4 linked regions of the Homo sapiens genome follow. The protein of the gene in region 4 purifies or fractionates together with the protein of the main gene of each other region. This does not show direct contact. Each region holds a gene or a part of one and is shown on either strand. Other genes may lie near its edges.

Region 1 (5,475 bases), on a different chromosome or scaffold from region 4:
TTTTTAATGGAAACATCAGAGATTTTGTCAACTGTGTTTGAGATTTAGGAGAACTATTACAATCGCTTTTACCTGTGTTGCTGAAGGAAGATAAAGTAGACTCTGTGGGTCTCGTCGTAGTGCTCTTTCCTCCCTGCTCGTCACACTGCAGTAACTGCAGTGCCTGGTATAGCAGTGGCCAGTGGGGCATTGTAGGGTGACCCACCAGCTCTCCTGGGAGGTCTCTCTTCTCACTTGATGCACTCAGGTCAGCTTGGCTGGGCAGGGATGTGACTTCTTACACTTCAGGTAGATGAGGACTCATGGACACAGAGCAACCTTATTTCCTCTTGCCATACTTTGCACGGTGATAAGCACACAGGTCCTTGAATGGAGATGCTCAGTCTCAGCGACTTAATTCAGAATATGCTTACTGGGAGTTCAGGGAGGGAGATGCAACAATTTTCCGTACTTCTGCCTCAGTGTCAGGTATTCTTTCTTGCCATATTTATTGATTGCCTGCTATGTGCCAGGCGCATGTATATATGCTGATGATGCACTGGTGAACAAAATGAAGTCTCTGCCTTCTTGGAGTATACATTCCAGTGGAGAAAGACATAGGTTTTATGCCTGGTGGTAAAGAATGCTGTAAGAGGCCGGGCGCGGTGGCTCACACCTGTAATCCCAGCACTTTGGGAGGCCGAGGTGGGCAGATCATGAGGTCAGGAGATCGAGACCATCCTGGCTAACACGGTGAAACCTCATCTCTACCAAAAATACAAAAAATTAGCCGGGCGTGGTGGCGGGCGCCTATAGTCCCAGCTGCTCAGGAGGCTGAGGCAGGAAAATGGTGTGAACCCGGGAGGCGGAGCTTGCAGTGAGCCGAGATCTCACCACTGCACTCTAGCCTGGGCGACAGAGTGAGACTCCGTCTCAAAAAAAAAAAAAAGAATGCTGTAAAACAGAATAAAGTAGAGAAGGGGGATAGGAATGGCAGTGGTGGGTCTTTTTAGATGGAGTATTCAGAGAAGGTCTGTCTGAGGAGTTTGAGCAGAGAACTGAATAGATGAGGGTGTTGGAAAGAAACGTTTTTGGGCATGGTGTAAAGGCATGCTTGAGGGATTCTAAGGAGGCTGGTGTGTGGCTGGAACTAAGTGTGGGGATGAGAGGTACTAGGAGATCACATGAGACCATGTAGGCCACTGTTAGCAGTGAGTACAATGGTAAATGAGTAGAAGGATTTTGAACAGCAAGATTGCTATGATCTTACTTAACACTTATAAAAGAGTCACTCCTATGACTTTTGTAGGGTGAGTAAGCTATAGTAATATCAATAGAAATGAACATGCTTTGCATTTGCCATGTGTCAGGTATTATTATTATTATTTATTTTACTTTTTTTTGAGATAGGGTCTTACTCTGCAGCCCAGGCTGGAGTGCATTGGCATTGATCATGGCTCACTGCAGCCACGACCTCCTGGGCTTAGGTGATCCTCCCACCTCAGCGTCCCAGGTAGCTGGAACTACAGGTGTACGCCACCACACCTGGCTAATTTTTTATATTTTTAGTAGAGATGGGGTTTTGCCATGTTGCCCAGGCTGGTCTCAAACTCTGAGTTCAAACAATCTACCTGCCTCAGCCTCCCAGTGGGCTGGGATTACAGGTGTGAGCCACCATGCCCAGCCTCATCATTCTTATTAACTGGTTTAATCCTTTCAATAATCCTATTAAGTAGAATTATTAGGTAATTAGAATTAGGTTAAAAAGAGCTGAGGTGTGGGTGTTCGTTTCTCAGGTGAAACATGGCTAAAAGCTTACGGAGTAAGTGGAAAAGAAAGATGCGTGCTGAAAAGAGAAAAAAGAATGCCCCAAAGGAGGCCAGCAGGCTTAAAAGTATTCTCAAACTAGACGGTGATGTTTTAATGAAAGATGTTCAAGAGATAGCAACTGTGGTGGTACCCAAACATTGCCAAGAGAAAATGCAATGTGAGGTAAAAGATGAAAAAGATGACATGAAAAGGGAGACTGATACTAAGAGAAACAAAAAGACTCTTCTAGACCAGCATGGACAGTACCCAATATGGATGAACCAAAGGCAAAGAAAAAGGCTGACGGCAAAGCGAGAGAAAAGAAAGGGGAAAAGCAAAGCAAAAGCAGTGAAAGTGGCAAAGGGTTTGGCGTGGTAGACTCTTAAAACCTTGGAAAATGCCACATGGGATAGATGATGGATTAGAATGTATATACATGTATACTTTGATTTCAGCTGCCACCAAATGAAAACCATTTGTTTTCCTATTTTAACTTGGCCTTTTTTCTTCAATTCAAACCCAGCATAACTCCTGAAGTTTGTTTTGGGAACTTGAATAAAATATTTTCTTTGATACAAAAAAAAAAAAGAATTAGGTTAAAAAGAATTAGGTAATTCTTTTTTTATTAGGTAGAATCCTGTTAGGTAGAATTATTTTATAGATGATAAAAGTAAGGGAAGTTAAACACCTTGCTCAAGGTCATTTGTGTAACAAGAATGAGTGCCAGCATTTGCACTCAGACAGTGTAGCTCTAGAGTGTGTGCCCTTCTCAAGTACTCCAGCATGAATGCAGAGTATTCGCACTGAGCCACAGAGGCAAGCAGTCAGGAGAGTACGCATCTGAAACGGTGCTGTGGGGTGTTGAACTTGCATGGTGAGTCGCATGTGGGATCAGCTTTCTAGAAGTATTGATTATGGCAGATTGAGATGGTAAAACTCTGACTCTCAGTCACAGATACCTTGAGAAATACTATATTATTAATATACTACTACTTGCTGGTGGGGGTTTGTGGAAGCTGTTGCAGTTGACAAGGTAAGAGATGATGGTGACTTGGACGAGTATAGCAGAGGAGTAGAAAGAAGTGGTCAGGGCCAGGCGTGGTGGCTCATGCCTGTAATCACAGCACTTTGGGAGGCCAAGGTGGGTGGATCACAAGGTTAGGAGTTTGAGACCAGCCTGGCCAACATAGTGAAACAAAAAATTAGCTGGGCATGGTGGCAGGCACCTGTAATCCCAGCTACTTGGGAGGCTGAGGCAGGAGAATCACTTGAACCTGGGAGGCAGAGGTTGCAATGAGCCAAGATTGCGCCATTGCACTCCAGCCCGGGCGACAGTGTGAGACTCCATCTCAAAAAAAGAAAAAAAAAAAAAAAAGAAAGAAAAAAGTTGTCAGATTAGGACAGGCACAGTGGCTCATACCTGTAATTTCAGCACTTTGGGAGGCCGAGGTGGGTGGATCACTTGAGGTCAGGAGTTTGAGACCAGCCTGGACAACATGGTGAAGCCCTCTCTCTACTAAAAATACAAAAATTAGCTAAACACAGTGGCACGTGCCTGTAATCCCAGCTGCTTGGGAGACTGAGGCAGGAGAATCACTTAAACCCGGGAAGCGGAGGTTGAAGTGAGCCAAGATCGCACCACTGCACTCCAGCTGTGTGACAGAGCAAGACTCCATCTCAAAAAAAAAAAAGAAGAAGAAGAAGTGGTCAGATTCAGGACGTGTTTTGAGGATAAGTGGTGGATTTAATGTAGGGCTTGAGAAAATGCCATTGTGTATGACTGACTGGTGTTTGAATCCTTTATCATATCCCAGGGCCGGTCTAGGACACATAATTGTGTGTGCCTAGGCATTCTTCCCAGTTTGTTGTGGCTGCCCTGCCCAAGCCCACATCACCTATTAGCTTCACGTCCTTCTCTCCGCAGCCACCAAAACCCTCAACAGGGGCATCTCTGAGTTCATCGTGATGGCTGCAGACGCCGAGCCACTGGAGATCATTCTGCACCTGCCGCTGCTGTGTGAAGACAAGAATGTGCCCTACGTGTTTGTGCGCTCCAAGCAGGCCCTGGGGAGAGCCTGTGGGGTCTCCAGGCCTGTCATCGCCTGTTCTGTCACCATCAAAGAAGGCTCGCAGCTGAAACAGCAGATCCAATCCATTCAGCAGTCCATTGAAAGGCTCTTAGTCTAAACCTGTGGCCTCTGCCACGTGCTCCCTGCCAGCTTCCCCCCTGAGGTTGTGTATCATATTATCTGTGTTAGCATGTAGTATTTTCAGCTACTCTCTATTGTTATAAAATGTAGTACTAAATCTGGTTTCTGGATTTTTGTGTTGTTTTTGTTCTGTTTTACAGGGTTGCTATCCCCCTTCCTTTCCTCCCTCCCTCTGCCATCCTTCATCCTTTTATCCTCCCTTTTTGGAACAAGTGTTCAGAGCAGACAGAAGCAGGGTGGTGGCACCGTTGAAAGGCAGAAAGAGCCAGGAGAAAGCTGATGGAGCCAGGACAGAGATCTGGTTCCAGCTTTCAGCCACTAGCTTCCTGTTGTGTGCGGGGTGTGGTGGAATTAAACAGCATTCATTGTGTGTCCCTGTGCCTGGCACACAGAATCATTCATACGTGTTCAAGTGATCAAGGGGTTTCATTTGCTCTTGGGGGATTAGGTATCATTTGGGGAGGAAGCATGTGTTCTGTGAGGTTGTTCGGCTATGTCCAAGTGTCGTTTACTAATGTACCCCTGCTGTTTGCTTTTGGTAATGTGATGTTGATGTTCTCCCCCTACCCACAACCATGCCCTTGAGGGTAGCAGGGCAGCAGCATACCAAAGAGATGTGCTGCAGGACTCCGGAGGCAGCCTGGGTGGGTGAGCCATGGGGCAGTTGACCTGGGTCTTGAAAGAGTCGGGAGTGACAAGCTCAGAGAGCATGAACTGATGCTGGCATGAAGGATTCCAGGAAGATCATGGAGACCTGGCTGGTAGCTGTAACAGAGATGGTGGAGTCCAAGGAAACAGCCTGTCTCTGGTGAATGGGACTTTCTTTGGTGGACACTTGGCACCAGCTCTGAGAGCCCTTCCCCTGTGTCCTGCCACCATGTGGGTCAGATGTACTCTCTGTCACATGAGGAGAGTGCTAGTTCATGTGTTCTCCATTCTTGTGAGCATCCTAATAAATCTGTTCCATTTTGATGACAGAATGGCAGTGCCTGATTCTTAGTAAGTATCCGGCTAAAATTGGAATGAAGACATACTTAGCTTTACTAGAGTGGTGATAGCTGCTTAAGACTTTTTTTTTCTTCTTTGTGAAAGAGTTTCACTCTTGTTGCCTAGGCTGGAGTGCAATGGCACGATCTCGGCTCACTGCAGCCTCTGCCTCCTGGGTTCAAGTGATGCTCCTGCCTCAGCCCCCAAAGTAGCTGGGATTACAGGCGTGCGTCACCACGCCCAGCTAATTTTGTATTTTTAGTAGAGACAGGGTTTCACCATGTTGGCCAGGCTGGTCTTGAACTCCTGACCTCAGGTAATCTGCCTGTCTCAGCCTCGCAAAGCGCTGGGATTACAGGTGTGAGCCACCACGCCTGGCCACTTGCTTAGACTTTTTTTTACCAGAAGGCTATGGAAGAGCTGTCTCCTCCTACCAGGTAGTTTCTACCTTGGCAGTTCAAAATGTCGTCTTATACACACTCAACTGGAG
Region 2 (7,040 bases), on a different chromosome or scaffold from region 4:
CTGGCTGATGCATCACAGAGCTCATTCCTGCAAGTCTGGGCTCAGCCTCAGATCCTCATGCCAGCACCAGGCAGCCAATACCAATAGAATTGTTAGGTGAGATGAAACCTGTTTGCCATTCATAGATGAGAAAAGCTCATCTGGCTCCTTTAGCAGATGTTTGTTTCTTGCAGCCCCAAGACTAGCATCTACCAACTCCTCAGTCCTGGGGGCGGACTTGCCATCAAGCATGAAAGAAAAAGCCAAGGTGAGTGGGACTGCCTTCCAAGCTATTGCCTATGGGATTTAAGGTGCCTGGTAGGGGACAGTCTTACATGTCAGAGAAGGATAGGGTTGTGAGTAATTGCCCCACCTGGATTCAGAGCTCAACCTGTGTCACCAGTTGTGGGATCTTAGTCCCTTCACCTCTCTGGGCCTCAGTTTACTTTTCTATAAAGATAAGGATGATGCCTGCTGCAGTGGGCCACTGGGCACATTCTACACCTGGGGTAGGCGATTTCTTTCCTCTTTCATGCCTGCGTTCACCCGTTCACTCAACAGATCTTGACTAATACCTGTTATGTTCCAGGCACTGTGCTAGGTGTGGAGGCACCGTAGTGATCAAGACATCTGTGGTTCTGAAACTCTAAAAGCATTTTCCAAACTGGAAACTGCTCAAAAAACAAGGTGTCATTTTCTAATAATCCAGAAAGCAGAGTTAGATACATACATGTATAAAGAATTGTGCCTCTGCGATTGCCTGGAGCATTAGCAACAATGTCTCAAAGTAATTATGAAGTAATGATAAGATCAACAACAAACTGCTACTTACCACTTAGTAAATAACTACCATGTCCCAAGAACTGGGATTCTGTTTTCTCAACACCTCTGGTGAGAGGAGGTGCTGTTTTTAACCTCACTTTAAAGATTGGGAAACAGATTGAAGGGGTAGTTTACCCAAACTCACACAGCTAAGAAGTGGTAAGATTGGGTTCAGATGCAAGTGGCCTGTGCTCTTAGTTCACCATGCCATACCAGATGTGTCTGTCACTCTTGTTCTCTGTAGGCAGAGACAGAGAAAGCTGGCAAGACTGGGAATTCCATGCCACACCCTGCCACTGGGAAGACGGTGGCCAACCTTCTTTCTGGGAAGTCTCCCAGGAAGTCAGCAGAGCCCTCAGCAAATACTACGTTGGTCTCAGAAACTGAGGAGGAGGGCAGCGTCCCGGCCTTTGGAGCTGCTGCCAAGCCTGGTAAGAAGTCCCCACCTCTAGGAACCTAGTCCCCAGAACTTGGGCTGGTGAGGCAGGCCTAGGCATTGCTTTAAGTTCTGGGACATTTCTGGAATCAAAAGTTTGTCTCCAGGACAGCCAGGTTCCTGCATCTTAGGACTTTTCTCATCACCTAGACGAGGGAGGGTCAGCTTACAGGGACCTGGCCTCAGGCTGAACAGCCCACCTGGTGGTTGGAGCATTTTCTGCTTTATGACTCCCTGGTGAGTTACAGGGACAACTGGCAGCTCAGAGACTAAACTGAAAGGCCTGATTTGCCTCTGTTTCCTATGTAGAGTAGACATCTGTCTGGCCTGCATCAGTGGATATGATGGTGGATGGAGGTTCTGTAGACTGTCAGGTGCTGGTGCATATTTGTTGGGTCCCCTCACAGCCCTTCCCAGGGCCTCAGAGATGTGTGGGAACATAGGGATGGTGATGGTACCCACCTCAGAAGGGGGCTTCACAGCTCAGTGCATGTGAGGCACACGAGGGGTGAGCGCTCAGCACCTGGCTTTGATGAGCAGCTGGTTTGTGGGGAGGTGCTGGGGAGGGGCAGGTGAGGCTGGAAAGGGAGTCCCTCAGTCCCCTCCGTGTCCGATCCTCAGGGATGGTGTCAGCGGGCCAGGCCGACAGCTCCAGCGAGGACACCTCCAGCTCCAGTGATGAGACAGACGTGGAGGTAATTGCCACCCATCCCTAGGAGTTGCCCTCTCCCAGCCTCTAACCCTTCCAGGAACCTGTCTGGGGCTTCAGACACCAGTGGGCCCAGATGAGTTCAGCAACTGTGGTAGGGTGACCAGGAGCTGGAAAGGCTGCAGCCGGAGAGGGGCAGGGAGAGGAGTCTGGTGCTGCTTGCTGCACTCTGAGTGTGAGATCAGCCCTGGGGGCAGGAGAGGGACACCCTCCTGCCTGTGAGACTAGACAAGCCTTCCTGGGAGAGGTGCCCTGGAGTAGGGCCTCAAAGCACAGTGGGCTTCACTGGGAAGGGATGTGGAGGAGGCAGGGCATTCCAGACAGGAAATGGGGCAAGAACAGGGCCCAGAGGCAACAGTGTGGCTGTCGTGGTCTGGCTAGGGCTGCGGCTGCTGAGAGGGTTCTGGGCCAACTGGTGAATGCCAGGCCTAGACACTTGGCTAGAGTTGGGCAGGACTCTTGGGTTTGTGAACTTTGACCTGGAAAAGGTCTCCACAGGTTACTTTTTATTGTGTACCTACTAAGTGGCAGACCTGGGGAATATAGTGATGAGCAGGACAGGCAGAGTTCCTGCTGCCATGGGGCAAGGGAGCGTCCCTCAGATATTTAATTGGTGATGGCTGCTATGAAGTGGAAATGTAGAGGGCCACGCAGGGCAGGAACCTGACGTTGATGAGTAGGCGTAAGCAGAAGGAATGGCATGTGCAGAGAAGGCGGCAAAGAGAGTTTGGTGCTTTTAAAGAACATTGATCTTTTTTTAAGACAGTCTCACTGTGTCACCCAAGCTGGAGTGCAGTAGCGCGATCTTGGCTAGCTGCAACTTCCACCTCCCGGGTTCAAGCGATTGTCGTGCCTCAGCCTCCCAAGTAGCTGGGATTACAGGTGCACGCCACCACGCCTGGCTAATTTTTGTATTTTTTGTGGAGACAGGGTTTCACCATGTTGGCCAGGCTAGTCTCGAACTCCTGACCTCAAGTGGTCCATGTGCCTTGGCCTCCCAAAGTGCTGGGATTACAGGCATGAGCCGCCACGCCTGGCCAAAACCTTGATCTTTAAATGAGAGGGAGAAACCAGGCACGGTGGCTCGCACCTGTAAGTGCAGCACTCTGGGAGGCCAAGGCAGGAGGATCATTTGAGGCCAGAAGTTTGAACCCAGCCTGAGCAACATAGTGAAACCCTGTCTCTACAAGATGTTATTTTTTAAAAAAACAAATAAATTATGGGGAAAGTGACACAAGATGAAGTCCTAGGTAGACAGGGGCCAGATCTTCTGTCTGACCTTGAGGACCACCATAAGGAATTTGGGTTTTATTCTAGGGGCTGTGAGAAGCCATGCCAGCAAGGAGAGATGGCCTGATTTGCATTTAATAAGATTGCTGGCTGCAGCCTGGGTTGGAGGGCAGTGCAGAATAAAAGCAGTAAGACCATGTAGGAGACTATTGGAGTAATACTGATACTGGCATAAGAGGCTGGGGGCTGGGAGACCAAGGTGTCCACAGTTGGAAAGATGTTTTCAAGGGAAAACCAGCACAAGTCAGGGATGAACTGATCTGGTGCCCAGGGAACTTCTCACTTTACTGTGCTGCCTGGCCCAGTAACCCTGTGAAGGTTGAAAGCTCACCCCCATCTACCCCAGGCCTTACCAAGGGCTGCCCTCCACCTTCCGTCCTCACCCTTGCGCCCTAGATACCACCAGCTGTAAGGACATCCCTGGCTTCTGTCACCCCAGGCCTTGCCAAAGGGAAGAAGACCACTCCCAGCCCTCCATAAACACACAACCTCAATGGGCTGAGGCTGTGCAGAGCTCCAGTAGCAGACGCCCCAGAAACCCAGGGCCGCAAGGGGTCTGATGGATCTCAGAGGTAGAAGTAGGGCACTGACTGCCTGGGAAATGTCTGAATTGTGGAAGTGTAGGAAAGAGCTCACAGAGGGAAGGAATTTGCCCAAGGTGTGGCAAGCCAGTGGCAGAGGTGGTGTTCACATCCTGAACTCCTGGCCCTCAGGAGGGCTGCTGTGATCAGATACTTGAGTTTAAGGGGCAGACAGGATGCGCTCTCCTGATTGAGATGCAAGCCCTTCTCTCAGGCCAAGCCCGGTGTGTGCCAGGTGGGAGATGAACGTAATGGTTTTGAGATCTGTTCCAAAGTCAGACAGTCCAGGGTTCCAGTGGGGCTCTGTCCCTTCATATTGATCATGAGTGATTTTACCTCTTTAAGCCTTGTGTACTTTTCTGGAAAATGGATCTAAAGCTAATAGCCGTCTCAGGGAGTTGCTTAAAAATCCAGTGACATTAGGAAAGAGCTTTATCAACTGCTGAAGCCCCTAATACAGAACCTTAGGGGGAAACAGTAATTATTATTCATTTTCTAATTCCATCCTCTTGTTCCAGGGGAAACCCTCAGTAAAACCAGCCCAGGTCAAAGCCTCATCAGTTTCTACTAAGGAGTCTCCAGCAAGAAAGGCGGCCCCAGCCCCTGGGAAGGTGGGGGATGTGACACCCCAGGTCAAAGGAGGGGCCCTGCCCCCAGCCAAGAGGGCCAAGAAGCCAGAAGAGGAGTCAGAGAGTAGTGAGGAGGGATCTGAAAGTGAGGAGGAGGCCCCTGCAGGGACACGAAGCCAGGTGAGGCCTGGAGGAGGGCTGCCCCTTGGAGGACCTGCGGGTCCCCCAGCAGCCTGAGCACTCTGCCATGAGCACCTCTGCCACTGGAGTTGGGGAGAGGGAGGACTATGGTGTGAAGTTGAAGAGCAAGAACAGCCTGCTTCCCACAGGGGAGTCTTGCACTCCACTTTGTCTGTGACCAACTTTACCTCAGTTTCTCTGCCTAGTAAATGGGCCGCTGTCCTCGTCCCAGCCAGTCCTGCTGTGAGGGACTTGAGAAGTTTTGATTGCCTAATCCTCTGACTTCTCAGGACAAACCAGACCCTGAGCAGGCAAACACTACGTTAGCTAAAGGGAATCCAGTTCCCTTCCCCATCTGCTGGGAGTGGGCAGGGCTGCAGCCCCAAGGCCCTGGGTGTATCCCAAGGGCAAGACAGGGGGGCTGGAAAGCAATGGAAGTCAGAGCAGGAAGGAGGAAGAGTGAGGGTCACCCACCCAGCCCCAGGCCTGGGGCAGGACAAGGCGGGGGCATGCAGTAGATAAGCAGATCCCCTGCGTTAGCTGCTGGTAAATGGTAAAGAGGAAGTGGGGGACATAGGAATGGCAACTTGAAGCAGAGTGCTCTGGGCTGGCCTTGGGAGAAGGCGTCTCAGTAAAGACCAGAAGGAGGAAGCACTCTTAGGAAGGTCATTCCAGGCAGGGGCTCAGCAAGTGTCAAGGCCCTGAGGTAGAAGTAGGACTACGAATTGTGACAAATTGTTGTTCCCACCCCATCTACAGGGAACTTCTACGCCTCGGCTGTCTATTTTGCAGTGTCTGGGGGCTACACAGTGTTGGATGGGCATCCACTTTGAGAAGGAACACAAATGTGAATTTTTTTTTTGAGACAGAGTCTTGCTCTGTTGCCCAAGCTGGAGTGCAGTAGCGGCAATCATAGCTCACTGCAGCCTCACTCCTGAGTAGCTAGGAATACAGGCACACACCACCACACCCAGCTTGTGTGTGTGTGTGTGTGTGTGTATAGACAGGGTTTCACTGTGTTTCACAAGCTGTGGACTCAAGCAGTCCTCCCACCTTGGCCTCCCAAAGTGCCGTGATTACAGATATGAGCCACCGCACCTGGCCATAAATGTGAACTTTTATGTAAAATCTGCTTTCTCCATGTTGGCTCAAAAATTTAAAAAGGAGCTAGCCAAGCAAGACCTGTGTGGAGCAGCCTGCACTTTCTGCATGAGAAGCTTCTTAGAAGATCAGAGCTGCTGTTTTCTAGGGTTGTTGGCCCAGGGCTGAACACCCAGGGCCTTCCAGGGAAGACAGGGCCTGCAGCCACCCTGCCAAAGCCCCAAGACAGTGCAGAGCCCCACCGAGGAGTTAGTGAAGAGGGGGCCAGGTGTGCAAACCTTGCCCCATGAGGCTGAGGGTGGGCTTCCAGGGGTCCTGCTGCTGTCCATGTGCAGAAAGTCCAGTGAGGGCCTCCCTCAGTCCCTTCCCCACTTTCAGACTGCCTCTTCATTCCTTCCCTTCCCTGGGCCTTTGCACACCCCCTCCCCACAGCCCAGTCTGATGATGCTCCCGATAAGCCAGTGCCTGTGCCTCCAGAGCTCTCTGGCCAGTGGGAGCCCAGCAGAGGACAGGCTCTAACTACCCAGTGTGCTGGGGCACCAGGGGGAACCATGTTAAGGAAGTGGTGTCTCTTAGGGAGCCAGAGACAGAGGAGGCAGTGGCTAAGTGAAATGGAACAGGGGGCATGGAGGCTCCAGGAGTGAGAGTGTGTGAAGCTGATCGATTTTTGAGAAACCAGGAGGCCAGTGTGGCCAAAGTATCAGTCAAGGTGGGGAGTGGGGAGGGAAGCAGGGGAGGTCTTAGGAGCCTCATTAAGGCCTCTGGACTTTATCCTAAAGGCATCACCAGAGAGTTTTCACAAGCAGGAGAGCAAGCTGCCCTTTCTTTTTCACCAGGTAAAGGCCTCTGAAAAAATTCTCCAGGTCAGAGCTGCCTCAGCCCCTGCCAAGGGGACCCCTGGGAAAGGGGCTACCCCAGCACCCCCTGGGAAGGCAGGGGCTGTAGCCTCCCAGACCAAGGCAGGGAAGCCAGAGGAGGACTCAGAGAGCAGCAGCGAGGAGTCATCTGACAGTGAGGAGGAGACGCCAGCTGCCAAGGCCCTGCTTCAGGTGAGGCCTGAGGAGGGAGACTCCATGCAGCCAGGCCCGTCCCCAGAAGGCCTTCTCAGGACTTGTTCTCCCACTCTGGGCCAGAGCCCCGGGCGTGCCTCAGACCCCAGCCCCTTACTCCCCTCTCACTGTGTGGCATCATTTGCCCTATCTGGTCTTCTGTACGTGGTGTCCTGTGTCTCCTCACACGTCCATCCTCTGGGCTGTCTCCCCTTGTCTTGTTTCTCCAGGCGAAGGCCTCAGGAAAAACCTCTCAGGTCGGAGCTGCCTCAGCCCCTGCCAAGGAGTCCCCCAGGAAAGGAGCTGCCCCAGCGCCCCCTGGGA
Region 3 (7,040 bases), on a different chromosome or scaffold from region 4:
AATAATAATGCTACCTGTTGTGTAGCACTTTTTAAGGCAGATGAATAATATGTATTTCATTTAAGTTGTTTAGCAACTCAGTGGACTGTGAAGAACAAATACAATTTCAGTTTTATGGATGAGGTAACAGGCCAATGAAATAGGACACTGGGATTGTGTAAACATCTCCAAATCAGACTACACTAATAGGTCAGTCACTTTAAAAAATACTTAGAATTCTATGGGTTAGGTGTACGTGTCAATCTAAATGTATAGAAAGATTTCCTCAATGGAGCAGACAATGTTAAGCACTTTATAAATCAAAGAGCTGTTACTGTTGCATGGCACAGGCAGAGTTATGTCTATTATGTGATAAATCACAGTGGTTGTTCCAGTATTCACATTTGGGGATGACAGCTATAGCTTTGTGGCACACAGCAGCAGGTTGATTTCACCAAGCTGTTGATAGGGAAATGAAACAAGCTTTAAATATGTACTATGTGTCCATCTGTACTCTCCATGATAAATAATCCCCTTTTTACTATTCCTTTGTGTGAACTTCTGTCCTTTCAATGATGCCTTTTGTCTTTATTTTTCTTGAATAAAATTATTACTCAGGGACTCTGGAAGAACTGATTGTGATTTTCCTCTAGGGATTTAAAGATAGCCCTACATGTAGGTTACTGTTTAATCAAATCAGTATAGGTCATTCTTAAAACTACTGAGTTAAGGAGGAGCAGATTGTTTATCCTAGGAAGTTATTCTGCCTATGTGAGTATATAAAATGCGAATTTCAGTCAATTTGGGCTATAAGGTCTGGAGAAGAACTCTTCTTAGTTATGAAAATGTTAGCATTAATTTTAATAATGAATTTATGTGTTTATTGTTGTTTTTTTTCAACCTTTGTCAAGGAGTGGATTTTTTGTCTTTTTTTTGAAGGTGGTCTTAGATTAACTTCTGTAAAATTTGTTTCGTATTTAAGTCTTTTTTTTTTTTTTTTTTTTTGAGACGGAGTCTTGCTCTGTCACCAGGCTGGAGGGCAGTGGCGCAGTCTTGGCTCACTGCAACTTCAGTCTCCTGGGTTCAAGTGATTCTCGTGTCTCAGCCTCCCAAGTAGCTGGGATTACAGGCACACGCCACCATGCCTGGCTAATTTTTGTATTTTTAGTAGAGATGGGGTTTCACCATGTTGGCCAGGCTGGTCTTGAACTCCTGACGTTGTGATCCGCCTGCCTCGGCCTCCCAGAGTGCTGGGATTACAGGCGTGAGCTGCCATACCCAGACCGTATTTGAGTCTTGAAGAAAGCATTCTTTCTTATTGGTCTTAACTAAAGGGTCTTTTATATTAAAAAATTAGAAACAATTGTAAGATATTTTAGAGGCTACAGAGTAGTCTTGTTACCAGTCCATGTCATACTTCAATATTTGTACAAAAAGACGGTACATGTAATCTAAAAGAGTAGGTATTGCCAAGTAAATTGTATTTGGATTTGATATACTAATATTATTTTAATTGTTAATAAGAAAAAGAACCTTATGGCCAGGGATAGGAGGAAGGGGATTTAATAAAGAATGAGAGTTATTACATTGGATTGAAATAGGTTATCAAAAGCTTAGAGACGATACCAGGAAAATTCTCTTTGGGTTATATTAGTAAAGTTTGTAGGAATAAGCTGGGCACAGTGGCAGGGCACTTGTAATCCTAGCTACTTGGGAGGCTAAGGTGGGAGATTGCTTGAGTCCAGGAGTTTGAGCCTTGCCTGGGCAACAGAGAGACTCTGTCCCTTTCTTTTTTTTTTTTTTTTTTGAGACAGAGTCTTGCTCTGTTGCCCAGGCTGGATTGCAGTAGTGTCATCTCGGCTCACTGTAACCTCCGCCTCTTGGGTTCAAGCGATTCTTTTGCCTCAGCCTCCTGAGTAGCTGGGATTACAGGCATGCGCCAGCACGCCCAGCTAATTTTTGTATTTTTAGTAGAGATGGGGTTTCACCATATTGGCCAGGCTGGTCTTGAACTCCTGACCTCAAGTGATCCACCTACCTCGGCCTCCCAAAGTGTTGGGATTACAGGCCTGAGCCACCGCTCCTGGCAAAGACTCTCTTAAAGAAAAAAAAAAAAAAAAAAAAAAAAAAAAGAATTGGTAGGGGTAACTGGATATAAGGTGGTGGACTATTTACAGGATACCATAAGCCATAAGCTCATGGTCCATAGTTGATATGTATTAGAAGTAGAAGATTAGTGGAAACAATTAATTAATTTTGAACATAAATGAAGCATACAAAAGGGAAATTTGGCATACTTAGAAGTGTCATCAAAGAGACTTAAAAAAAATAAAGGGACTGGGTGTGGTGGCTCACGCCTGTAATCCTAACACTTTGGGAGGCCGAGGTGGGCAGATTGCCTGAGCTCAGGAGTTCGAGACCAGCCTGGGCAACGTGGAGAAACCCCGTCTCTACTAAAATACAAAAAATTAGCCAGGCGTGGTAGTGGGCGCCTGTAGTCCCAGCTACTCTTGGGAGGGTGAGGCAGGAGGATTGCTTGAACCTGGGAGGCAGAAGTTGCAGTGAGCCAAGATTGTGCTACTGTACTCCAGCCTGGGTGACAAAGTGAGACTCCGTCTCCAAATAAATAAATAAATAAATAAATAAGTAAAGGTTGGCTGGGCACAGTGGCTCATGCCTGTAATCCCAGCACTTTGGGAGGCTGAGGTGGGCGGATCACGAGGTCAGAACTTCGAGACCAGCCTGACCAACATGGTGAAACCCCGTCTCTACTAAAAATAGAAAAATTAGCCGGGTGTGGTGGCACACGCCTGTAATTTCAGCTACTCAGGAGGCTGAGGCAGGAGAATCACTTGAACCTGGGAGGCGGAGGTTGCAGTGAGCTGAGACTGTGCCACTGCATTCCAGTCTGGGCGACAGAGCGAGACTCTCTCTCAAAATAAAGTAAATAAATAAAGGTTGTGGCTTATGAGTGAGGTCATTAGGACCACAACAAGGAATTTAGCAGTGGTATAAAGCAACAAAGCAAATTTTGCTATAGGTCCATCATTCTCTACTTAAAAATTGAAAATAAAAGCCTGGCTCAGTAGCTTACGCTTGTAATCCCAGCACTTTGGGAGGCCAAGGCAGGAGGATTGCTTGTGCCCAGGAGTTTGAGATTAGCCTGGGCAACATAGTGAGACCCTGTCTCTACAAATAATGAAAAAATTAGCTGGGGATAGTGGCATGTGCCTGTGGTCCCAATCCTCAGGAGGCTGATGCAGGAGGATCACCTGAGCCAGGGAAGTCGAGGCTGCAGCGAGCCATGATCACACCACTGGGCTCCAGTTTGGGTGACAGAGTGAGACCCTGTCTTAAAAAAATGCAAATAAAACACTGTTTCAGAGTTAGTGTTTATAATAAAATGTTTTCCCTCTGATTATCATCTGCAATCTATTACTTTATGACTATACTGTTATTCACAACGTTTTAAATATTCCTGATGATAATGAAAAGAAGCTTATTTATAAACCAATACCAAATGGTTAGGAATTCACTTTTACTAAATGAATGCCTTTTTCTTTCTCTTGCTAGTGCCGAAAACATTTGAAGAGTCGGAGATTAGTCAGTGCAAAACAGCTTGGTGTGGATAGAATTGTAGATTTTCAATTTGGAAGTGATGAAGCTGCTTACCATTTAATCATTGAGCTCTATGATAGGGTAAGTTAAATTTGTGGGATATGGTGAAGGAAAATTTCTTATTAATCATTTTGTAATAGTGCTATATAACATGAGTGGGGGAACATTTTTTTTCTGTGTCAAAGGTTGTTACTACCCTAGGAAATGGGTGCCACACAAATAAAATAAAATTTTCCAGTAATAACCTTCATTTTATCTGTAGGTCTGAGTTTAGGCAGACTTTAGCCATTTAGAATAGCCTTATGAATGTAGGAGATGAAGATCTGAGAAGTAAATTATTTGGTACTTGACATTTCAGGACTAATATGCAACCAGAAAATAGTCAAATACGGTCATGCACTGATGCGCTGTATGTATAGTGATGTTTCAGTCAACAACAGACTGCATATAAACGTTGGTCCTGTAACATTGTAATGGATCTAATAAATTCTTACTGCTTAGTGACATCTTGATCCTGACTCTGTGTAGGCCTAGGCTGGTGTGTGAGTTTGTGTGTTAGTTTTTAACAAAAACATTAAAAGTAAAAACAAAACAATTTAAAATGGAAAAAAAGCTTAGAGAATATGGATCTAAAGAAAGAAAGTATTGTACAGCTGTACGATATGTGTTTTAAGCTAAGTGTTATTACAAGAGTCAAAAAGCTAAAAAGTTTAAAGTTTATAAAGTAAAAAAGTTCCAGGAAGCAAAGGTTAATTTATTATTGAAGAAAGAAAAACATCTTAAAAATAAATTTGGCTGAGCGCAATGACTCAGGCCGGGCACAGTGGCTCACACCTGTAATCCTAGCATTTTGGGAGGCCGAGGAGGGCGGATCACCTGGGGTCAGATCACCTGGGGTCAGGAGTTCAAGACCAGCCTGGCCAACATGGCAAAACCCCGTCTCTATTAAAAAATACAAAAATTAGCTGGGCGTGGTGGCGGGCACCTATAATCCCAGCTACTCGGGAGGCTGAGGCAGGAGAATCACTTGAACCTGGGAGGCAGAGGTTCCAGTGAGCTCAGATTGTGTCACTGTGCTCCAGCCTGGGCAACGGAGCAAGACTTTGTCTCAAAAATAAACTAACTAACTAACTAACTAACTAACTTAATCTGGGCCAGGTGTGGTGGCTCACACCTGTAATCCCAGCACTTTGGGAGGCCAAGGCGAGTGGATCACCTGAGGTCAGGAGTTTGAGACCAGCCTGCCCAATGTGGCAAAACTGCATCTCTACTAAAAATACAAAAATTAGCCTGGTGTGGTGGTGCGTGCCTGTAGTCCCAGCTACTCGGGAGGCTGAGGCAGGAGAATCACTTGAACCTGGGAGGCAGTGGTTGCAGTGAGCTGAGATCATGCCATTGTACTCCAGCTCAGGTGACAGAGTGAGATTCAGTCTCAAAAAGGAAAAAAAAAATATATGTGTGTGTGTGTGTGTGTGTGTGTGTGCGCGCGCGTGCGCGTGCGTGTGTATGTATATAAATAAATAAATACATAAATTTAATCTGGTCTGAGGTAAGCATAATTTTTTTAAAAATTAAAAAATAAAAAACAAATTTAGTGTAGCCCAAGTGTGCAGTATTTATCAAGTCTACAGTAGTATGCAGTAATGTCCCAGGCCTTCACATTTACTCACTGTCACTCACCCAGAGCAGTTTTCAGTCCTGCATGCTCCATTCATGGTAAGTGCCCTATACAGGTGTTCCATTTTTAATCTTTTATACCAGGGATCTTCAACCCCTGTGCCGCAGACTGGAACTGGTCTGTGGAACCAGGCCACACGGCAGGAGGTGAGCAGTATGCGAGTGAGCATTACTCACCTGAGCTCTGCCTCCTGTCAGATCAGTGGTGGCATTAGATTCTTATAGGAGCGTGAACCCTATTGTGAACTGTGCATGCAAGGGATCTAGGTTGCATGCTTCTTGCGAGAATCTAATGCCTGATGATCTGAGGTGGAACAGTTTCATCCGGAAACCATACCCCTGCACCCCCCATCCATGGAAAAATTGTCTTCCATGAAACTGGTCCCTGGTGCCAAAGGCTGGGGACTGCGGTTTTTTTTTTGTTTTGTTTTGGTTTTTTTTTTTTGATACAGAGTCTCACTTTGTTGCCCAGGCTGCAGTGCAAGGGTGTGATCTCAGCTCACTGCAACCTCTGCCTCCCGGGTTCAAGCAATCCTAGTGCCTCAGCCTCCTGAGTAGCTGGTATTACTGGCATGTACTACCATGCCCAGCTAATTTTTGTATTTTTAGTAGAGATGGGGTTTCACCATATTGGCCAGACTGTTCTCAAACTCCTGACCTCAGGTGATCTGCTCGCCTTGGCCTCCCAAAATGCTGGGATCACAGGCATGAGCCACTGCGCCCGGCCTGGAACTGTTGTTGTAATACCATATTTTTACTGTACTTTTTCTATATTTAGATGTACTTAGATACACAAATACTTGCTATTGTATTACAGTTGACTACAGTATTCAGTAACATGCTATACAGATTCCTAGCCTAGGAGCAATAGGTTATATCATATCTTTGGTGGATGTATTAGGCTACACCGTCTAGGTTTGTGTAAGTATACTCTATTACGTTCACACGACATCGAAGTTGCCTAAATGCATTTCTTAGAATGTATCCCCATTGTTAAGCAATGCATGACATTGGGTCTGCCTTCTTTTATGCAATATTTTTTATTTTTTTGAGATAGAGTCTTGCTCTGTTGGCCAGGCTGGAATTCAGTGGCATGATCAGGGCTTACTGCAAACTCGGCCTCCTGGGCTCAAGTGACCCTCTTGCCTTAGCCTTTCATGTAGCTGGTACCACAGATGTGCACCACCATGCCTGGCCAATTTTTTTATTTTTTGTAGAGACAGACTCTCACTTCGTTGCCCAGGCTGACCTTGGACCCCTGGCTCAAGCAATCTTCCCATCTCAACCTCCTAAGGTGTTGGGATTACGGGGGTGAGCCACCACGCCTGGCTCTTTTATTCAATATATAATGTCTGTGAGATTCATTGATGTTGAAAATTCCCTTAGCTCCACATCCTTAGCAACATTTGATATGATCTCTTAGAGCTCTTTATCTAATCTGATTATGAGCCCTTTGCTGATTATTTGTGTAGTAAATGTCCTTTTCTACTCTAACCTGAGTTTTTACTCTTTCTTTTTTTTTATTTTTTAATTTTTTTTGAGAATAAGTCTCACCCTGTCGCCAGGCTGGAGTGCAGTGGTGTGATCTTGGCTCACTGCAACCTCCGCCTCCCGGGTTCAAGCGATTCTCCTGCCTTAGCCTCCCGAGTAGCTGGGATTACAGGCACCTGCCACCACGCCCAGCTAGTTTTTGTACTCTTAGTAAAACAGGGATTCACCATGTTGGCCAGTCTGGTCTTGAACTCCTGACCTCAGATAATCTGCCC
Region 4 (3,302 bases):
GAGCTTCTCCAGTCGTGTGGTGTCTTTATCTGAATACCGCCAGAGCCTACACACTTACCTGCGCTCCAAGATGAGCCAAGTAGCCCCCAGCCTGTCAGCCCTAATTGGGGAAGCGGTGCGTCACAGGGGACTCAAAAATGGGAGAATAAGGACTGTTGCCATGTGCACCTGCACTGCTGTATTTCGTGACCCACCATGTCTTCCCTAGTTGTGCTTGATGGGGAGGTGGGGAGCAGGGCTGTCGTGCAACTGGGCAGGTCAGCAGTTCATTTCTCTGACTGCTTCCTTGACTCTCTCTCCAGGTAGGTGCACGTCTCATCGCACATGCTGGCAGCCTCACCAACCTGGCCAAGTATCCAGCATCCACAGTGCAGATCCTTGGGGCTGAAAAGGCCCTGTTCAGGTACCAGTGAGGGCACCTGCCCACAATCAGGTGCCACTTCTGGTGCCCACTGCTTGTTGGGGGATCACGGTGATGGCTGACCAGGGCTCCCTGACCTATACAGGCCTCTGCTATGGGGGTGATGGCCAGTCCTGGTGTCTGAGTGATTCCCAGGGCCCAGCAAAGGGACCAAGTTTCCAGGTCAGCGACATTGGATGCCTTCCCTCTGCCTCTGGGAGCTATGGGTTGGCATGCATTGGGGTAGAGATCCAATCTGGCCTGAGGCTCACTCAGGACTTCGGGGTGAGAGGAGGGGAGGAGCTGAGCTGCCTTGGCTAATGGGGTTGAAATTTCTGATCTTAAACTCTCCACTGAATATTCTCTCAGAGCCCTGAAGACAAGGGGTAACACTCCAAAATATGGACTCATTTTCCACTCCACCTTCATTGGCCGAGCAGCTGCCAAGAACAAAGGCCGCATCTCCCGATACCTGGCAAACAAATGCAGTATTGCCTCACGAATCGATTGCTTCTCTGGTATGGGTGGGGGGGCGTTGGCAGGTGTGAGAAGGGGCTGGGTGGCTGGGTGGGGAGGCTTGCAACCATAGCTTCCACAATGATGGCAATATTTTTCGTCAACAGCAGTTCACCTAGTGAGTGTTGAGACTCTGGGTCTGAGTGAAGCTGAGGGTAGAGGGAACACAGGGTTGGGGTAGTTTCTCTCTTTGGGCTGACAGGCTTTGTCACCCACACACATCCAGAGGTGCCCACGAGTGTATTCGGGGAGAAGCTTCGAGAACAAGTTGAAGAGCGACTGTCCTTCTATGAGACTGGAGAGATACCACGAAAGAATCTGGATGTCATGAAGGAAGCAATGGTTCAGGTCAGTTGGGCTTTGCTGGGTGTGGAGTGGCATAGCTAGCTGTTGGAGGTGATGAACTGTCTGAGCCTGACCTTGTAGAATGGAGGCAAAAAAACTGATTTAATGAGCCTGATCCAATAAAGCCAGAAAGGAGTCCTCAGAGCACCAGAAGTCTTCAGGCCCTTTTAGCACTTTTCTTTGACCAGGCAGAGGAAGCGGCTGCTGAGATTACTAGGAAGCTGGAGAAACAGGAGAAGAAACGCTTAAAGAAGGAAAAGAAACGGCTGGCTGCACTTGCCCTCGCGTCTTCAGAAAACAGCAGTAGTACTCCAGAGGAGTGTGAGGTCAGTAGGCAGCACGGCCCTGGCAGAGATCCTAGGTTGTAGGATTTTCAACAGCAGAACAAAGGATATGCTGCATCAAGCTGTGGTCTTGAGTCCAGGCTTTTGGACTGAAACAAGGACCTGAAACATCTAAAACTACCTCTTGATTCTATAGGAAGGAGATAGGTGCTGAACTTGCTCAAGAGCCCAGAGAGCTGGTTGTAGCTCACACCCGTTCCCTGGGCATGTGTGTTCTGTCCTCGGCTGCCTCCCAGGAGTCCTCAACCTGGGGTAGTGTAAATTCCTGCTCTGCTTATTATCAGACGTGTGTCCGGAGGTGGTCGTGTTTCACAGTGGGGATGGGGGCAGGGAGGTCCCCAATGTGCTAAGCTACAATCATTCTCCCTGAGATTTTCATTTAGCACCCAGTTTCTTAAACAGTGTTTCAGGGCCCTGTCTGGAACTTGGCATGATGGTTCTGTTGCGACCAGCATGGTGGGTGTTTTTTAGGTTTTTTTTTTTAATGGGCTGAGGTAATTTCTCATGACATGTTTTCCTTCTAATTTGGGACAGCCTTTGGGGTGGATTTCTAAAGTTATACCCACACAATTAAACTATCCCAGAAACACTGGGCAATGTTAACGACACGCGTTCCCCTGCCTTGGCTACTTAATTGCTGAAGATGTAATGAGCACTGTTCTCACAGCCTGTTCCCCTGTCCTTCCCTTTAGGAGATGAGTGAAAAACCCAAAAAGAAGAAAAAGCAAAAGCCCCAGGAGGTTCCTCAGGAGAATGGAATGGAAGACCCATCTATCTCTTTCTCCAAACCCAAGAAAAAGAAATCTTTTTCCAAGGAGGAGTTGATGAGTAGCGATCTTGAAGAGACCGCTGGCAGCACCAGTATTCCCAAGAGGAAGAAGTCTACACCCAAGGAGGAAACAGTTAATGACCCTGAGGAGGCAGGCCACAGAAGTGGCTCCAAGAAAAAGAGGAAATTCTCCAAAGAGGAGCCGGTCAGCAGTGGGCCTGAAGAGGCGGTTGGCAAGAGCAGCTCCAAGAAGAAGAAAAAGTTCCATAAAGCATCCCAGGAAGATTAGAATGCAAATGGACATTCTCTGGGAGGTGGGGCATACCATAGCCCAAGGTGACATTTCCCACCCTGTGCCGTGTTCCCCAATAAAAACAAATTCACAAGAGTTGGTTCATGTTCTTTATTGAACACCTTACATGGGTATGGACAGGGCCTATGGGTGGGGCAAGGCAGCAATGACAGCCTCAGTGAAGTCATGGCAAGTAGCATAGCCACCCATGTCAGAGGTTCGAACCTGTGGGGGAGAATCATCATCATCCATGTGGCCTGGGCTCCATCCTAACAATCCCCATCACCACCCAACAGTCTGTCCCCTAAGGAAGCCGGCCCAAGGACAACCTAGGCTCTACCCAGCAAGGTGACCATGGTCCACTGCTTAGAGGCACAAGGTCTCTTCCCTGGTACACTGCACTGAAGGGTATGGGGAGTGTGGTCCTTGCAAGGTTGGAAGAAATAAAGGGCTCTAGCTCCCTTTAGTCTGCAGGTGACCGATGACAGACTTGATGAAGTCGGTTGTGGTGCTGTAGCCGCCCATGTCTCGAGTCCGCACCTACAGCCACCACCGGCAACAGCCGTGGGGAGGGAGAAAAGAGAGCCCATGAAGGGAGGTAGGGCAATGTGATTGAGGAAATGGAAGCCAAGAATG

What was found.
Region 1: the proteins of NOP56 (region 4) and SNU13 fractionate together in Homo sapiens (co-fractionation; 3 studies listed by BioGRID, with this or other methods). This does not show direct contact.
Region 2: the proteins of NOP56 (region 4) and TCOF1 purify together in Homo sapiens (affinity purification with western blotting; 2 studies listed by BioGRID, with this or other methods). This does not show direct contact.
Region 3: the proteins of NOP56 (region 4) and NEMF fractionate together in Homo sapiens (co-fractionation; 2 studies listed by BioGRID). This does not show direct contact.

Annotation. Positions count from the first base shown.
Region 1 is NC_000022.11:41,673,433-41,678,907, reverse strand, and holds the end of SNU13 (NHP2-like protein 1), read left to right. Parts: intron 1-1,747; exon of another isoform or gene 1,748-1,782; coding exon of another isoform or gene 1,783-2,166; exon of another isoform or gene 2,167-3,706; intron 3,707-3,712; coding exon 3,713-3,975; 3' UTR 3,976-4,975; downstream 4,976-5,475. Other genes in the region: protein LLP homolog, read left to right, coding at 1,783-2,166.
Region 2 is NC_000005.10:150,367,671-150,374,710, forward strand, and holds part of TCOF1 (treacle protein), read left to right. Parts: intron 1-173; coding exon 174-247; intron 248-1,045; coding exon 1,046-1,232; intron 1,233-1,858; coding exon 1,859-1,932; intron 1,933-4,335; coding exon 4,336-4,566; intron 4,567-6,503; coding exon 6,504-6,716; intron 6,717-6,946; coding exon 6,947-7,040.
Region 3 is NC_000014.9:49,842,778-49,849,817, reverse strand, and holds part of NEMF (ribosome quality control complex subunit NEMF), read left to right. Parts: intron 1-3,552; coding exon 3,553-3,678; intron 3,679-7,040. UniProt on the Homo sapiens protein: Key component of the ribosome quality control complex (RQC), a ribosome-associated complex that mediates the extraction of incompletely synthesized nascent chains from stalled ribosomes as well as their ubiquitin-mediated proteasomal degradation.
Region 4 is NC_000020.11:2,655,632-2,658,933, forward strand, and holds the end of NOP56 (nucleolar protein 56), read left to right. Parts: coding exon 1-115; intron 116-302; coding exon 303-403; exon of another isoform or gene 404-583; intron 584-769; coding exon 770-918; intron 919-992; exon of another isoform or gene 993-1,063; intron 1,064-1,142; coding exon 1,143-1,264; intron 1,265-1,307; exon of another isoform or gene 1,308-1,379; intron 1,380-1,449; coding exon 1,450-1,587; intron 1,588-1,741; exon of another isoform or gene 1,742-1,857; intron 1,858-2,297; coding exon 2,298-2,663; 3' UTR 2,664-2,762; downstream 2,763-3,302. Other genes in the region: IDH3B (isocitrate dehydrogenase [NAD] subunit beta, mitochondrial isoform e precursor), read right to left, coding at 2,878-2,891, 3,128-3,206. UniProt on the Homo sapiens protein: Involved in the early to middle stages of 60S ribosomal subunit biogenesis. Required for the biogenesis of box C/D snoRNAs such U3, U8 and U14 snoRNAs. Part of the small subunit (SSU) processome, first precursor of the small eukaryotic ribosomal subunit.